Homo sapiens: one gene and its partners. The protein of the gene in region 3 interacts with the protein of the main gene of each other region in a pairwise test. Each region holds a gene or a part of one and is shown on either strand. Other genes may lie near its edges.

What was found.
Region 1: the proteins of MAPK9 (region 3) and C1orf94 interact in binary tests that used the Homo sapiens proteins (3 or more experiments, as listed by UniProt).
Region 2: the proteins of MAPK9 (region 3) and PAX5 interact in binary tests that used the Homo sapiens proteins (3 or more experiments, as listed by UniProt).
Region 4: the proteins of MAPK9 (region 3) and MED12L interact in binary tests that used the Homo sapiens proteins (3 or more experiments, as listed by UniProt).

Annotation. Positions count from the first base shown.
Region 1 is NC_000001.11:34,175,032-34,180,255, reverse strand, and holds the start of C1orf94 (uncharacterized protein C1orf94), read right to left. Parts: upstream 3,350-5,224; 5' UTR 2,467-3,349; coding exon 2,147-2,466; intron 1-2,146.
Region 2 is NC_000009.12:36,832,220-36,835,781, forward strand, and holds the end of PAX5 (paired box protein Pax-5), read right to left. Parts: 3' UTR 1,050-3,562; downstream 1-1,049. UniProt on the Homo sapiens protein: Transcription factor that plays an essential role in commitment of lymphoid progenitors to the B-lymphocyte lineage. Fulfills a dual role by repressing B-lineage inappropriate genes and simultaneously activating B-lineage-specific genes.
Region 3 is NC_000005.10:180,243,141-180,247,702, reverse strand, and holds part of MAPK9 (mitogen-activated protein kinase 9), read left to right. Parts: coding exon of another isoform or gene 1-3; exon of another isoform or gene 4-40; intron 41-192; coding exon 193-264; coding exon of another isoform or gene 265-305; exon of another isoform or gene 306-1,683; intron 1,684-4,562. UniProt on the Homo sapiens protein: Serine/threonine-protein kinase involved in various processes such as cell proliferation, differentiation, migration, transformation and programmed cell death.
Region 4 is NC_000003.12:151,088,151-151,092,712, forward strand, and holds part of MED12L (mediator of RNA polymerase II transcription subunit 12-like protein), read left to right. Parts: intron 1-4,562. UniProt on the Homo sapiens protein: May be a component of the Mediator complex, a coactivator involved in the regulated transcription of nearly all RNA polymerase II-dependent genes.

The DNA.
Region 1 (5,224 bases), on a different chromosome or scaffold from region 3:
TGCAAGGAATTTTTACAAATCTGAATTATTACCATAAATGTTTAAATATCCCATTTAATCATTCCAACAACCCTACAAAATGTATAGTATTAATCTCCATTTGGCAGATGAGGAAACCAAAGTTTAGATAAATTAAAGAGTAACAAATTCTTCAAATGGCATGGGGCTGAAATGGAATCTGAAACCAGAGTTATCTGACTCCACCAGCACACCGCCTTTATTTTAAGAATAGCTCATTGTGTTCTATTTGGTTGACAATTAGGATGTCGTTTATTCGTCTAAGTCATTGGTTTCCTATCTCTTTTCTCAATAGCAGAAACATGTTTTTCAAATTCAGCCCTACTCAGAACTCTAGTAAGTAAAACTGATAAAAGCTAAACAGCTCTGGCTGAAATGGATTTTGGGGCCCAGCAACCAGCCCACTTGACTCCACAGTGACCCCTGAAGCACCTTGAGGTATATGGAGCATAGTGTGAACCCCAGATTGAAGCCAACAACAACAAAAACAACAACAACAACAACAAATCCCAACCTGAAGAAGTACATGTTAAGAGCAGCCTGATTTGTATAATGCATCTTTCATTTCCCTGTCTCCCATCACATTGGATCCTCATTATCAACTCTGAGGTAGACAAGGCAGCACATATCACCCTCAATTTGCAAATGAGGAAGTAAAGGCCAAATGGAGTTAAGCAGCTGGCCAAAGGTGCACCAGTTCAATTTTCAGCCAAGTGCAGACTGGAAGTCGAGTCTGTCTCCATTAACTCTGTGTGACCTGGCAAAGAGGATGCCATCTACTGGAAATTGCTACTGACCCTTGGTCCACAAAGTGGACAATCAGCTTCTTGGCCATTGAGAGCAGAGCACAGCCCCATGGGCCCTCCTGCCAAGGCCCTGTCCCAGAGCAGATGGCAATGAGCAGGGGAGAAGGGCTCAGTGCCACTGAAGGGCCTGACAGCAGGATTTTAGCTGTAGATGGGCCATTCCTGTCTGAGCCTTGTCATGCTGAGCACAGGGCAGGGAGGCAGGACTAGCCAAAGTGCCTTCCACCTTCATCTGCAGTAAGTAAATGAGCCCACAGAGGGACAGCAGGTAGTGTAGAGCTGGGTGTCATTTACACTTTGCTTTTCTTCTTAGCTCTTGCTTAGGCATCCCTGAAACCCGAGGCAGCTGATAAATGCCTGAATGGCTCCCCAACTCCAGAGCATCTCTGAACTGAGCTGTAGCATGTGTTGGAGCAGGCAACACTTAATTATCGGTTAGTCTTTAATTAGCTCTTAATTATTAACACTTAATCCATCTGTAAAATGGGGACACTAATACCTGCCTCACAGGGACTCTGGGAACATTAATTAAGTTTACAGTCCACTTTGAAGATGCAAAACGTGAAATAAGTAAGTGCTCAACGGCGGTATTAATAACCACAGCAGATTTACTTTCTTTTCCTAATTTCCCTTTTTCCTCTCTGCTCCTTCCTTTCCTTTCGAATATCCATCCTCAACAATATCTGCCCAACTTTGCCCTGATGGAGAAACACTTAGCTCTGTGTTTCCCAGACACAGGATTTCCCATCCCGGAAACGGGCTATTTACAGCCATCTTCCCGCACTTTAATTTTCTATTATGTCCTCTGAATATGTCAGTGCCTTCCCAGTAAATATTTTGATGTGTGCTCTTGCAGCAGCTTCTGTGGAGGCTGAATGGGACAGCTGCTCCCTGTATTAGGGAATTCCAGATGTGATTTAAAACCATCAGACTCATCCATGTGAATGCCTAGCCTTTAGGTGGGAGAGGGGAAGGATCTTCTAGTTGCTTCTGGGGAAAGCCACAAGCCATATAACCCTTAGCCTTAGCTAGGGTGGTTTTTCAAGGACCTCAGATTCACATGCGTTTAGGATGAGAAATGTCTGCTTAACGGGCTGGTGAAGAGGCAGCCTGGAATATAGCCCTAATCTGACTCTTCACCCACAAAACTTCAGAACTTTGGTCAGCTCTTCTATAAAGCTTGGACAAAGGACCATGGAGGGGGCAATATACAGCCTTTAGGGTTTCACCAGCCTCAACAGTGGGCCAGAACATTCCCCCAGAAGGTCAGACTTCATCTCCTCCCTCCTCCCTTGCTGCCAATGGAGTAGGGGGGTACTTACTCTTCTTGAAAGCTGAGCTCATTGCCTCTTAGAGTTCCAACCACAGGGACAGAGAGCTGCTCCATGGAGGTCCAGGGCTGTGAGGCCTCAGGCAGGCCTTGAACTCTCTTCCAGATTTCATGGCAAGTCTTGTCTAGGCTGTCTTGGGGTGTGTCCTGGTGGATCCAGATGTATCTGGGGAATGGGCCCAGGGCGCAGGGGCCCTTGGCCACCAGGGCCGAGGATGAAGGAAGCCCATTCCCGCTGGCCATCCTCCTCCTCTCTTTCTGGAAGCCCCTCTGTCCACCCAGGGCTAGAACACAACCACCACCACCCCTCATTCACCAGAAAGGGAGATGAGGATGGGGCTTGGCAGAAGTGGGTCAGTTCTGTCTGGCTTTCGCTCCAGCAAGGTGGTTAGGTTCAGAGGCCTTCTATTTGTGTGGGAGGGGTGGGTGGAGGACAGCTTTCTTTTGGGGAGGGGAGGGCTTATTTTGATTTGTTTTTATTTGCTCTTTCCTGACTTTTGCCTCCCTCCCCCTCTCCCTTAGAAGAAAATATTTAAAAGTCAACAAAAACCAGTAGCTTAGGAACAGTGGAATGCTGCGGAGCTCAGGAACCAGGCGCCTGGGCGGGCAGAATGACATCTGGGAACAGCTGGAAGGGGAGGGCTGGCTCTCCCCACAGTCCCTGGCACTGCCCCCTTGCGACGCCGCCGTGACAACTTTCGGCGCCTGGGCTCAGCCCATGCTGTCCCGCTAAGCCACGCGGAGGACTGGGTGCGGGCCTGGCACCATTGTAGGCACTCGGGGGGCGGGGCCCCGCAGGAGGCGCTCGCCTGGGCGTTCCCAGGGAGCCCCTCGCAGAGCGAGCGTCAACGGCCCGACTCCCACCCCCGGCCCAGGTCCTGCTTTTCTCTCGCCCTACCCCTCCTGCTCCCGGTCTCCCGCTGCTGCTCTGCTGCCCCCGGAAAGAAGGGATGAGGCGTGTGTGGATGGGCCCACAGCCCTTAGTCCCCGGCCCCCAGCAGACCCCTGCCCCAGCCGCGCCGCGCTGCCAGGCGGGCACCGGGAAGGGCCCAGCGGCTCAAGAGCGCGCTGACTCGGCAAGGCAGGCTGGGCCGGGCGGCTCCCACCAATTTGCCTGCCAGTAGCTCCCACACCCTCGCCGTCGTCGAGCGGGGGAATTCTTTCTGTGGGTTTCAAACGCAACGGCTCGGTGCGCGGGGCGCCCTGGGTTCGGAGCCCAAGACCCGCCGGTGGGGTGGGTGGGGGTGGGGCCCAAAGGACCCCAGAGCGCTTCGGGGGATCAGAAGTCAAAGCCAAACGCGCCGCCGCCCCACTTCGCCGCTCCACACAAATCTCAGCTCCTGCCTGGGGGTCCCCCGGCAACCTCGATTTTAATCCTAACTGCCATTTTATGGGGCGCTTGCCCTGTGCCAAGCGCTGGGCTCACATTCAATCCTATTAAAGCTCGTGAAATTAGTACCACTTTTTATTATCGTTCTACACGGGAGGAAAGCGAATCTCAAAGTCATAAGGGATTGCGTCCAAGGCCCCCTGAGAAAAGGGAAGCTGAGACTCAGACCCCAGCACTCTAGGCCTGATCTAGCCCTTGACCACTGAGACAGCTTCAGTAGGTGGGTAGGAGCAGGAGTAGGAGGTCCGAGGTGCAGGGAGAAGGGCTAAGTTAGCTGTTTGCTGATCAACAGGCCCCTACCCTCACTGAAGCGGCTTCATTCAATTGGGCACTGACACAGTACCTCTGCTGAGGGAGACTTTCTGGTTCCGAGAGTCAGGGGGTTGCTTCTCTAGCAATTCCCCTGAAAAGGAAAAGCAAGAGGGTGGAGACGGAAGAAAGAAGAATGGACACAAATAGAGGAAGATGGCAGTCTATAAATGCAGGGCTGGGTTGAATCCTGACACTCATTTCCGAGCTGTGTGACCTTAAGAACTTTCTGAACTTCTCCCATCCCCATTCATAATTCCCCCAGTACTGATGCAACCCCTCCTCTGTGCCCGATGAGTTGCTGGGCACTGAAGAAGCATAAGGGTGGGCAAAAATGGCATGGTCCCTGCTCTCCTGGAGCCTGTATACTAGCGAGGAGAGATCGATGCAAACCAGCCAAGCGAGTAAAGCAGCAATAATTACAGATGCAATGGGACTCTGATGGAAAATAACTATTAGGTTGGTGCAAAAGTAATTGCGGTTTTTGCCATCACTTGCAATGGCAAAAACCACAATTACTTTTGTACCAACCTAGTAACAAAGTGAGGCACTGGGGAGAAGAGGGGAGGCAATATTCCATGGTGGTCCAGGCCGACTTCTTTGAGGAGAAAAATTTGAGAAGGATGAGAGGAATTCCTTTTCTGTAAAATGGTGTTAATAAATTATGAGGATCATGTTTCTGGCACATAGTAGGCACTCAAAAAATATGTGTTGGATGAATTAATGGTATACTGTATGTAAAGTGCCTGGTATACAGTAGGTGCCCAATACGCAACCTTGCTCTTTACAGAGGGGCTGAGTTCCTGGAAATGTTTACTCTAAATTTTGAAATCTGAGCTTCATTCTCCTTTGATTTTCATTACAAAATTGAAGATGTGTTCCTTTGGGGAAAATTCTGAGGGCCTAGACTGAATAAAATTATAGTTAAGAATGTAGAAAACCTTTTAAAATAGTGTATTTAAAGGAAAAGTGATCATTTCTGATGAAATATTAATAGTTCTGAAAATGTCACTCAGTGTTTGTGCTGCTTGGCATTTGGTTGGCTAACACCTTAAGCTTAGAGCAGAACGCCAACGACCCTGCACTGCCCAGGCCCCAGGATTCTGGAAGTTAGCCAGCTCACTCACTCTTCCTGTTCCCTCTCCCCCTCAGCAGGAGACCAGGCAACGGGGGCTAAATCAGAAAGGACTGCAAAAAAAAAAAAAAAAAAAATCAAATACAGCAGGGATACGGAACAAAGATAGAGCATGTTTTTAGAGTGCACAGACGAGATTTCTAGAAAATTCTGCAAAAATCTTAAGTGATGTACTTAGAAATAGTATAAAGCTATGTCCATATGGTAGCCACTAGCCACATGGGGTTGTTTTAATT
Region 2 (3,562 bases), on a different chromosome or scaffold from region 3:
CCACGGCCCCCACGCGGTCACTCGCCCACTCCATCTCTGGCAATTACTGAGTTGCACACTGTGCCAACGGGCGCAGCGGTCCCTGCCTGCCCTTGCACACTCTGACATCGCCCGGCAGGGGCAGAGCTCAAGTCTGCAGCTGCCCTACCCGCTGATGAAAAGCCACCTCTGGGCTCCTTTGCACCTGAAATTTTCAGTTCCAAAGGCTTAAGGACAGGACAGAAGGATTGTGGACTCTTGCTCTCCGAGGTCTGACTGGATATGGCCTGTGGCTTTGGGGCCCAGAGGCGAGGTCTCCTGGTGTGAATGGCTTCTGAGTTCTGTCTGGATCCAGGCATTTTAGGTTCCAGGAGGCTCGACAGGATCAAAGTGAAAAGCACATATGGGATGGGGGCGGTGGCTCATGCCTGTAATTCCAGCACTTTGGGGGTGCTGACGCAGGAGGAAGGCTTAAGGCCAGGAGTTTGAAATCAGCCTGGGCAACATAGTGAGAGCCTGTTTCTACAAAAAGTTTTAAAAAATTAGCTGATAATATGTTAGTTTGTAAGTAGGGAAAAATTATTTTAAAAACTAGCTGGGCTTGGTGGTGAACGCCTGTAGTCCTAGCTACTTGAGAGGCTGAGGCAAGAGGGTGGCTTGAACCCAGGAATTCAAGGTTGCAGTGAGCTATGATTGTGCCACTGATAGCAGAGTCCTGGTTGGCCCTGTTCACTTCTGTGTCCCCAGTGCTGGGGACAGAATAGATGCTCAATCAGTGTGTGCTGAATGAATGAATTAGGTGGGAATTACCATTTGGGAACTGAAGAAGTAGACATTAAATCACAGCTAGGAGTCAAATCCAGAGTGGTGGCTCACCCATGACTCAACCTGCCAAGCCTGGGGACATCTCAAGGGTGGATTCTGTGCCTGCTGTCCCCTGCCCAGGGCACAGCCCAATTCTGCAACATGGGTTTGTTTTGACAAAACAATCAAATCCATGCATGACTACGGTACAGTCAAAGTTGTCAAAGGTCATCCTCAAACTAGTAAAAACAAACAAGATCAAATTCTTTTTCTGAACTTAAAAAATTACTTTTATTTTAGGAACCAATAAAATTATGGCAAATATTTACAAATAATTATCTCACATAAAGGTTACATAAAATCAATTCTTCACAAGTAACAGCCACTCATGAAAAGACACACAGATATTGAAACTACGCCAATCTTATTGCATGTTTCTCCAACTAATCTAAAATAAAGGTGTTGCAGTCAACCATTTAACTTAAAAGGAAGCCACAAATTTCAGGTTTGACAAGGAAAAAAAAGTAAAAAAAAAATTAAACCAAAACCCCACCCCTGTTTTCTCCCAAGTCCCACCCCTAGCCCTGCCCTCCTCCCCAAAAAAGAAAAATATGTCCAACATCTTTGGCAAATTGGCACTGCTGTAATTACATTCAAATATTATTACACACAAAAGCAACACACGTCACTAAGAAAAAAACCACCAATATTTCAAGTCAGTTATTTTCTACTAGAAAAAAAGAATACAAAACATACACATTTTTTAAGAAGCATTTTTTTTTTTCAATCCGTTGGAGACAGATCATCTCCCACTTTCAAAGGCAATTCAATTGTGGTTTTTGTTGTTGGTTTTTTTGTATTTTTTTGTATTTTTTTTTTTTTACAAGTAAGCGTCTATGCAGGCATCACAAACTTTGGCGGATACAGTAGATATGTATTTCTTTGATGCTGAAAGGTCAGTCCCTAAGACAAAATCAAATGTCTCAAAGAATTAAAAGCAAAATGCATGTGTCTTCCTGGCAAAGGTTTCCATTTGCAATGTAATCTGCATTTCTACAAATACTCAATGTCCAAGGCCACTAGAGGGTGAAAAACCAGGGCAGCGTCTTCCAGCAGGAGTCAGGGCAAACCCAGAGCCAAAACTCCATCCTCAGCCCAACCTTGGAGGCCCAGCAGCTGGGGCTGAGAAGTGGGGCCCAGGCAACGCCAGGCCCTCACTGCCCGCCACCCTCTGTTGTGCTGGGTGCTTGGGGCCAGGGGATGGGCCTGCCTCTTCCTGAGCCCCGGGACAGGCTGCTGCCGGGTCTGCTCACCTTCTCTGACCCAAGTCGAAGACAGCAGGCAAGAATTGGCATGGGGAGACTCAGTGCTGTTTCTGAGTTTCAAGTATGTCTGAGGTGTAGGGGAGTGAGTGAGTGTGTGTGTGTGTGTGTGTGTGTGTGTGTGTGTGTTTACATGCTCGTGCACCTTATGGAGGGGAAGGCCAGATTCTGAGGCTCTGAACTTTTTGCAGTGTTTAAAATAGACTCAGGATTTATTTATTTTCTTTTTAGCTTTATAGCAATTAATTGGCTATTGATTGGTTGGAATGTTCAACTCTCCATTTCCTCAAATACAATAAAATAGTTTCATTAAAATGTATTCATGCTTGAAAAGAAGGGCGCCATTAAATGGTTTCCTTTCTGTTCCACTCCAAGGGAAATGCGCCGTTTGTAAATCAAAAATCCATCATCCAAAATCACTTGTTCTTAATGATGCTTTTGGAGAAGATGAGGGACGTGGCCACAGGCATGGTGATTTTGGGGACAAGGGCGACCAGCGGCCATAGCCACAGGGTCACAGGGTGGGGGGCGGGGGTCAGGGCAGGTGAGGCTGGTGTGGCCTCCTCCTGCCAGGCCTCAGAGTCGGGGAGGAGATGCACGACTGCCAAGTCACCCCCACCCTGCTGTTTCACCTGCTTCCCTCCCTGGGCCCCGATCAGCCACCGGAAGCTGATGGGTGGGTGGGTTTGTGCCTCTGTCTCTCCTGCCACAGGCCAAGTACCCTACCTGAGACGACTCCTTTGAGGCTTTGCTGATTGTCCCTCAGTAGATATTAATAGGTAAGCAGCTGCATTTTCTCCTTGTGTTGCTCAGGGGTCTAAGATGTGGGAACAAGAATTTCTGGGCTTTCTGAATGGTGGCTACGTTTACCCATCTTGGAGATGAGCTAAAGGGGACCCCTTGGATTGAAACTCTAGAATGGCAGTGACATGATTCTGAGGTTCCCTTCAATCCTGGGGTGCCCAGGAACGGAGCCTCAGTGCTGAGGAATTACCAGAAAAGGAAAGACAGGCTGGTGCCTGCCTGCTCCTGGCCGGCAGCTCATTTCAGAGAAGCTGTTGCCTCATCAGGGGAGCAGGCAGGCAAGGGGCTCACAGCCTGGCCTCTGCAGAGGCCCTTGGGACCTGGCGCCACACGAGGTGCAGCCGAGCTGACAGTGGGGAAGTACACATCAGCACTGTGGTTCCCCCATGAATATGCAAGAGGGAACCCTGAGGTTTGGGGCAACAGGGGCAAGGGGCTGAAGGGGCTGCTGGGAGGTGGGGCACGCCGTGGGCTAGGAGTCGTGGCCTGACTGTCCAACTTTCCAATAATGCATTTTATTACCTTTTAAGAAATGTACTTGCCTCGGACCTCTCCGAGGCCAAAAGAACGAAAGAAATAGTTTCCCCAGGAGAGCTGGTGTGTGGCTGGGAACCATCAGAGCAGCCTCTCGATGGGTGACAAGGCCAAGACTG
Region 3 (4,562 bases):
TAAAACCCCAGATTGCTACAAACCGAAGGCTAAAATAGAGGTCAGCAATCATTCATATTGTGTAAAATGTCACCCTTAGCTAGCAATTTATTTTTCCATATTTGTGTGTTTAGTGCACTGTTAGAATTCCTTTTCCTCACTTTTGTTTTGTTCATGGCACTTCATAATTTTATCATTTCATTTTATTTTCAGTTGATATCTGGTCAGTGGGTTGCATCATGGGAGAGCTGGTGAAAGGTTGTGTGATATTCCAAGGCACTGACCGTATCCTTCCCCGCGACCTTGGCCCCGCCATGCTTTCTTAATGCCTCAGGCAGCATGACCACCTGCTTACACGAGCGCTCACGAGGACAAAGTCGTAAAATCCACTCCAGACTGTGTTCTAAGGGGGGCTTTACTGTATTTGTTAATTAGTGTCACAAGCCAAGTGGTTCAATTTCATTCTTTATTTTTAACTTGACTACCTGTGATGACTTTGAGACTTAGAGTTCAGTTAAACCGATTATATTAGCTCTTAATTTTGCCAAAAATAGCTGGACACATAGAAGAAATTATTTACTCTTTGATAAGTATATTCTGATATTTAAATGAAAATACTGTATTATTTAGTTTATTCCGTTAATTTAACTAGGAAAGATGCTATCTAAATTTAATAGGCTAGTGTGCTTGTGTGCTTTAATTAAGTACTATTTTGTTAGTTACTGGTATGCATTGAAATATTTTCCCCCAAAGTAAGAACTGAAGCACATTACAAAGGACCTAAGTGAAAGAGATTAAAATGAAAATTTTGTGAGGAACAATATGTTAAACTTTCTTGTTTGTTACTGTGCTGACATTTTGTAGAATTTTTTTTAAAAATCTGTCTAGTGGGTTATTTTGTGACACACTGGGGAAGTCAAAATAAATGTAAAATGAAAGAGATAAACTCATACTGTAGTCAGCAAGTCATGTTAGAGATACAGCAGAAAGGAGAATAACTACTCTAATTGTTACAATAGCCTTCTTTCCTCATTTGCCATTCTTCCATCCTCAGTATTTTTTACCCTAACATGGTTCTTCACATCTTCCCTTTTTCATTTGTGTTTTAACCACTTAGTTTTTCATTAGTCTTTGACTTTGTTTTCGTTATGAAAGTTTAAATTGGTCTCCATCCTTGGGCAGATTGATGGTTGCTTTTAAGGAAATCAAGCTCCATAGTCAGTGTTTTGTATGTATCTTAGGAAAATAATTTCAGATTTTAATAATTTTATCAAAGTGGTCTCCTTATAAATTCTTCACAGTGCAAACTTAAAGTGAAAATATTTTTATTTCTCTCATTTTATTTACCTTTCTTTACATTTTCTATATCATAGATTATATAATATGTCAAGTTATTTTATTTGTTCTACTAAATTTTCTAGCAGTTTCCATAGCCTCATCTCAGATTCACTTGTTGCAACCTATAAATAAGGACGTCTTTATTTTGCAAGTAAACTTAATTAAAAAGGGAAAAGTTGAAAAATTAAAAGACTAATAATTTAGAAATATCTACTTAATGTTCAGTTTGTCTCAATTCTTACTCATTTTGTGCCATTCCTTGTTTTATTACAAAATGTTTTCTTCAAAAAGTACAAAAATGAAAAATGTGAGTACTTTTTGGTGCATTTTAGTAAGTAAAATTAAAATTCCTGCTATACATATGAACATTAATGTCAGTAATTAATAGTGTTATATATAAGGTTACCTAATGTTATTCCCAAAAGCCACACAGAGTTTAACATCATTTTCTAAAGAAAATTTTGCCAACTCTTTCAAATATTAGATTGAAATTTGGGAGATAGAAAAAAGTTGCAGAAATCAGACTGAGGGTCTCAGAGATTTGCTTTAATTTGCGACCCAGGGTAGAAAAGGAACTCCTGTCCCTGCGGTGGTCTATGAGAAAGAGAAAGCTTTAGCCCGGCCACCTCGGGCCCCAGCTCAGACTCCTCCCCTTGGCAGCCATGCATCCTTGAGAAATTTAGGGCCTCTCTGAGCCTTGGTTTCCCCTTCTGTAAAATAGACCTGTGGTCTGCCTGCAGCTTCACGAGAGTTAGACAACAGGGTCCACTGGGCTTGTCGGAATTATTGTTCCCCTTCCCCCGTCCCTCTCATCTGTCCCCCATCCCTCCCACCTGTAGGATGCTGGGGTGGAGTCCTCTCGGGGAATCTGTGGGTCTCCTCTCACAACTGGTTTAATTTCTAGTCCTTTATCATTAACCCAGCAGATATTTCTCTCACCTGCCCATTTCTGGGTGCCTAGTCTGACTGAGATGCAAAGAGGCTCCTCCCAGCTGCTGAATTGAGGGTGGATCGTCAAGGGCAGGGCAGAGCAGGAGAACAGAGCAGAGGCTGCCATCATCCAGAGGAGAGGTGGAGGCCCCCAGCAGGCGGGTAGGGGTGTGGCCGGGGAGATGGGCTTGTACTCTGCTTTGAAGCTGGACCCTTCAAGGAGCCTTGCTAGGGTTTGGAGATGTCTGTTAGACAGTGGAATTTAGGGGCAAGGTCTGGGATAGAGAGATCAAAGTGGGTGTCATCCGTCTGTCGGTAGCCTTGAAGCCTAGGACTGGTAGCGAGCACTTGCAGGGGAGGAAGAGACCAGGACCCGGGACTTAGCCCCCTTGAGGTGGAGGGACAAAGGGAATAGGGAAGGAAATGGAGAAGGCACTCACGTGACCCCTCCTCCTAGAGTGTGGTGACTGAGGGAGGCTCATTCACATGAGGAGATGAGGACGGGGGATTGGCCCCTGGGCCTTGTGATGGCTGCTGGCAGCCATGATGGGCACAGCATTTATGGAGTGGAGGGAAGAAAGCCTGATGGGAGTATGTTTGAGAGAAAATGAGAGGCTGGGAATTAGAGACACAAGTGTAGACAGCTCTTTTTTCTTTCCTTTTTTTTTTTTTTTTTTCCTTTGAGACAGAGTCTCACTCCATTGCCCAGGCTGGAGGGCAGCGATGCGATCTCAGCTCACTGCAACCTCTACCTCCTGGGTTCAAGCGATTCTTCTGCCTCAGCCTCCCGAGTAGCTGGGATTACAGGCGCCCGCCACCACGCCTGGCTAATTTTTGTATTTTTAGTAGGGCCAGGGTTTCACCGTCTTGGCCAGGCTGGTCTTGAACACCTGACCTTGTGATCCACCTGCCTCGGCCTCCCAAAGTGCCGGGATTACAGGTGTGAGCCACTGAGCCCGACCGACAGCTCTTTATGGAAGTTTTTGCTGCAAATAGGAATAAGAAATAAAGCGATAGGTAGGGCCAAAGGAAAGCAGCTACTGTGTTAACATAGGAGAAAACACCATCATTTACCAACGTGGTGGAATGTATTGGTAGAGTGCAAAATGTCGATGATGTTGGAGAAGGAAGAGTTGAGGGAGCTTGTCCTTGAGTCAGGGGGGTTAGGGTCTAGAGCTGAGCAGGCTTAGTGTAGCCGGGAGCCCAGATGGTTGCTGTGTGGCAAATGGCACACAGATGCTGGGTGGGTGCATCCTGGGAAGTCTGTGGGAGTGAGCAGGCAGAAGAGGTATCAAAAGTATAAGGTGGGCTGGGCGCAGTGGCTCACACCTATAATCCCAGCACTTTGGGAGGCCGAGGCAGGCAGATCACTTGAGGCCAGGAATTCCAGACCAGCCTGGCCAACATGGCGAAACCCCATCTCTACTAAAAATAACAAAAATTAGCCGACCGTTATGGCAGGTGCCTGTAGTCCCAGCTACTTGGGAGGCTGAGGCACGAGAATTACTTGAGCCCGGGAGGTGGAGGTTGCAGTCAGCCGAGATCATGCCACTGCACTCCAGCCTGGGCGACAGAGCGAGACTCTGTCTTTATTTATATATGTATATATGGCAGAAGGAAAAGGTGTGAGACAGTTTTCACATTTTGGCTAAATAGGTAAATAAAATGTGGGCATAATTCTGATTTGACAATATGTATGAACCAGGAGTAGGAAGGAGAATTTGCTAGTGAATTGAATGCCAGAAACACATTTCCTGAGCGGGTCTTTTGGAAGTATAACATTTTGGAAGAACTGAGTTCATGTACCAGTTCCCTAGGTTATTTCATGGTGATGTAAGTTCATTTTTCTAAGACATGCCTCAGTGAGCACTTTTTTAAGCTGCTGTTGATGCTATTTTTTTCTCACTTGCATTCTCTTGTATAGCGAGTACAGTTTCAGTGTCACTTTCCCACATGTAATCCTAATTATCCCAAGCCTAACAAGCACCCTGTGGAATAGGCAAAGCTGGTAATGTCTGCATTGAACAAATAAGGAAACAGACCCCAAGGAAGCCTGACTTTCCTGACACACTGAGTGTTTAATGCAGAGTTGAGTCTGAAACCCAGGTCACGCACTTTGAAAGGAAATAAAATGCATTACCTAGGGATCGCAGTGATGGTTGGGAAGAGTCAGTTCCAAGTAAAATAGAGCATCATTTGAAAGCTGTCGCTGGGCTCAGTCTAAGCCCAGTTGCTTGGTTCCCAGCTGTAAACTGAGGAGGTCAGATAGGTCTCTCCACAGGTCCCTTGAGATCCTCTGTTCTTTAGAGAGCTGT
Region 4 (4,562 bases), on a different chromosome or scaffold from region 3:
AAACTGTCTTGCTTATAAAGTGTCTGAGAAGTAAGGAACAGCAACTCCTTTTAGAGGTTTAGCACACTAAATATGCTCTAGCATCAGTGGAGTCACGCAGATGAAAGCTGGGAAGGTTTTACAGGTGGTTTCCAGCACCAGCTTTACAGGATGGTAGAGGTTTGAGAAGATTTCCCAGATTTTTTTTCCTACCCGTTACCCCACCCTGCTACCCCAACTTAGAATGAAGTTAATGGTTAAGGACTGGAAATAATAGAGAAGCTGAGGATCAAGTGTACAGTTAATAGCTTAAAAATTATTGGGAGGAAATTCTTAAAGTTTTGATAGGGACAGGGATATTTTGTTGGTTGAACTTTATCATCTTGTAATTAATGTCTTACTCTGTCTTTCCAGAGGGCAGCATAATTGATGGCATGATGGCTTGGGGTGCTGTGTGGGCTTATTTAGCATTTGTTCTTCAGGCCAATGCTCATTTCACGACTGGGGCCTCTGATTCTGGAAAGAGTAATTTTGGATTTCAGGGTCTCACAACATTTTATGGAGTTCTAAAACTGGAAGCGACCTTAGGGACTACTTTCTATAACTTCCTTTTGACTAAGTGAAACAGGCCTGGGAAAGCTTGACTCGTTTAACCAAGGTGTATAGGTGAATAAGCAGAGGAGTTGTACCACCAAACCAGTATTTATGTCAAAACTAATACTGCTTTGAGGATGATTTATGCTAAATTATCTTCTGATGTTATCCCCTTTCCCCCAAGGCAGCCAATGTTTTAACTCTCCCAAGCAGACAGAGTTATGTGTGGCTGTAGCCAAATTTGGGTACAATATGGAACAGGTGCTTGGCTGTTCTTGGGTGGTTGGTGAGTAGAGTTTCCTAAGCTTTAGTTATTTATGTCCTACCTCCCTCAAGATTTCTACCCTACCCCTGTACCACCTGTACTTTTATTCTGAAGTTTTCTTTAAACTAATTTTTTAAGAAACTTTGTGTTTCCTGGGCAGTACTACACGTGGAGTCATGGATTTATTGAAATATATGTATATATAAAATTTATATCAAATCATGTTTACATACTATTTTTAATCTATTTGATATTACATGCACACACGTATATGATTATACATAATAAAATGAGACCATTACTATTAACACTTTAAAAGTTCATCTGTGTATCGAAAACAACAGTTGTGTTCCATTAGAGATAGCTGTGGTGGAAAATGCTGATTTAATGGAGGAAGTGTGGGCTTCCAAGTTGGGCCAACCTGGATTTAGCTTTTTTTTTTTTTTTGCAATTGTGTGGCCTTGGGCAAGTTGCATAGCCTCTCATTTGTAAATTAGTTTGTGCACTTCAGAAAAAATTTCAAACCAACATTTGTGTGAGAAAAGCCCTCCTCCTGGTAGAAGTTATTCTTGTCACCATAAATGTAATTTTTATTGTTGTTGTTAACCAGTGGTAATATATTTCAGAAAAGGGCTCCCAGAAGGTAGGGTGGAACCCATGAACGAAGACCCATGTGGAGAAGTATGGGGGTGGGGCGGGGGGGAGAATATGGAAGCTTTAACCTGCCTGATGGATTGGTTATATTTTTTTGAGAGCTTGCTGTGCATCAGCATCCTGTAGGACTTCATTATATATTGTGTTATAATACTTTGCTTCCTACAAACAGACTGTGCTCAAGCCTTTAAAGCAGGGAATCAGAAAACTGGCAGTCATCCTTGAGACCTCCTCCTTGCTTATACCCCATTCATCCATCAGCGTCTCTACATCCATGCGCACATCCTGTTCAGTTCCAAAATATATTTCCAATCCACCAGATGCTCTCCAGTTTCACCAGTATGCTTGGTCTCCCTTCTGGCTTCAGGGTGACTTCTCTTCCCCAGGGCTCCTGCATATTCTGTTCTGGTCTTTCTGCCTGGACACCTGTCTAGCCACCCCCTCCCACTTAGCATTCCACTCAGCTCTTCTCACCTTAGCCTGTGGTTAGAAAGGTAGGCTCTGGTGCCAGTCTGCTTGGGTTGGGACCCTGGCTGTCCTGTTTATGTGCCCCTTATTCTCCCTATACTTCATTTTCCTTCCATATAGAGTGAGAGTGATAATACTACTTAACTCATAGGGCTGTTGGAAGATTACCTAGATAGTATATGTAAAAAGCACTTAGAACAGAATCTGTCATAGATTCAGCCCCTATATGTTTGCTGTCATGAACTACTGTCATGCCTGCCCCTTCATCATTCAAGTCTCAGGCTTTTCTGATATATCATTTACAATTATATACTTATTTGCATCTTGCCATCTCCCCCTAATAGGTCAGTTTCATGAGGGCATGGATGAGGTCTGTTTTGGTATGGCAGAAGTACCTGGCACCTGCACAATTAGTTCCTAGAAGGCTGAGGGCACAAATATTTATTGGAACATGAATAAACTTGGGATGAATAAATTAAAAAGGGAAATCCGGTGACTGAGGGCTGTTGGGGAAAGTCAAGGTTAAAGCTGAAAGTATCCTTTGCATCTATCTGCTTTGGAGCCTAGGTTAAGCCTGAAAGTAAAATTAAGCTCCAGAAGTAGGAAGGAAGAGGAGGTTTACTCTGGGACAAAAGAGACTGAAACAGGGCCAGGCGTGGTGGCTCATGCCTGTAATCCCATCACTTTGGGAGGCCGAGGCGGGTGGATCACCTGAGGTCAGGAGTTCGAGACCAGCCTTAACAACATGGTGAAACCCCGTCTCTACTAAAAAATACAAAAATTAGCTGGGCATGGTGGTAGGCGCCTGTAATCCCAGCTACTTGGGAGGCTGAGGCAGGAGAATCTCTTGAACCCAGGAGGCGGAGGTTGCAGTGAGCCGAGATTGTGCCATTGCACTCCAGCCTGGGGGACAGAGCAAGACTGCATCTCAAAAACAAAACAAAACAACAACAACAAAAAACAACAGAAAAAGAGGCCGAAACATTTGAAGAGTAAATATGTGCAGAAAATCAAATTTGTTAGAAAAATGGGTTGGGGCAGTAATGAGATTTCCGGGAATCAGGAGCTGTAGAGCCCCACCAGCAGGGACCTACGGGAATAATGGCCTGGTGTGCAGTGCAGGGGCTGCCCGAAGATATACACAGCATGACTTAGGAGAGCTGGTGGTGATGGTGGTGTCTGCATGCGGATATCCCAGAGTGGTGGTTCTTCAACTTCAGAGGACATTCAGATTACCCTGAAGGCTGGTTGAAACAGATTGCTGGGTCTCTAAGATTCAGTAGGTCTGAGGTCAGGCCTCAGAAATTGCACTGGTGACAAGATCCCAGGTAATCTGATGGTGCTGGTCTAGGGCCCCACTTCGAGAACCCTCACCTAAAGGGAAGACATCCAGTTCTGCAGGGGCTAGAGCATTCTGCTTGATACGAGCAGGGCTGGATTAGACTTCTATGTATGGCTGAAGTTGCAGTAGTTTGGTTTAACAGCCAACCCAGCCAAGATTTGGTGTTCTTGTCCCAGAATTTGTGCCCTCTCTTAGTTCAGATCTAAGGGAATGGACCAGGAAGTCTCAGTCCCCCTCCAGTGGCTTTTTCCATTACACTTGAAATAAAATGCAAACCCTTTACCTTGGCCTTCAAGGCCCTACCAGTCTGGCCCTTGTTCACCTCTGCAGTCATTGCCTGCAGCCAAACAGCCTGGCTTTGAGTTCTGGCTACTCTGTTTACTGCCTGTTTGACTCAGCTTCCTCAACCATGGAATGAGGTTTGTATTTCTTCCAACTTCATAGAGTTGCTGGGAAGAGAAAATGAGCTAATGTATGCAAAGTGTGTAGAATCGTGCCTGTCACACAGGCAGCACTCAACACAGGTCAGCCACTATTAGCTGATCCCTTATTAAAGGATGCTGGGGGTCTCCTGTTGTACTTAACCATAACAGCCACAAGATCCTGCCTTTCAAGATCTGGGCTTTGAGTCACCCCTTCCAACTTGCTGTGTGGTGGGACCACAGGCTGCCTCTCTCTTCTTCCAACAGGCCTAGCTTCTTTGTGTATAGGTTCCTGTCCCTTGCTCCCTGCAGCAGTTTTGTTTCCTGTCATTTGGTTCTTAGCTCGGAAACTCCCCCACAGGGAGGCCTTCCTTGCAGCCTGTCTTCCCTCATCCTTGCCAGTTCATTTCCCTGAGTTAATATGTTTTGTAGCGCTTGTCACTGAAATGCAATTATTAGGATGCTATTCTCTCCATGGCCTGCCTTCCAGCTGGAATGTAAGCTGCATGAGAGCAGAGGCTTGTCTGTGGTGTTCACATCTGTGAACGGCCTAGTGCCTGGGAGTAGACTAGGTGCTCAGTAAATACTTCATGAAGAAATTAATAAATGCAGAAAGAACTATTAATGAGCAATTGTGAGTATTTATAACATTTAACTATCTCAATGCTTGGTTTATTTTGGTAACTCCTGTTAGTTTTCTTGTTAGCATCGAAAACTCTTAAAGGCATGAATGCCTGTTTTAGAGGCAGCTGGGGAAGTGGAGTGAGGGAGGTGGAAAGTTTGTTTCTTCAAAAGGGGAGGATGTTGATAAAGTTTTCTGGGAAGAAAGGACAGGTTG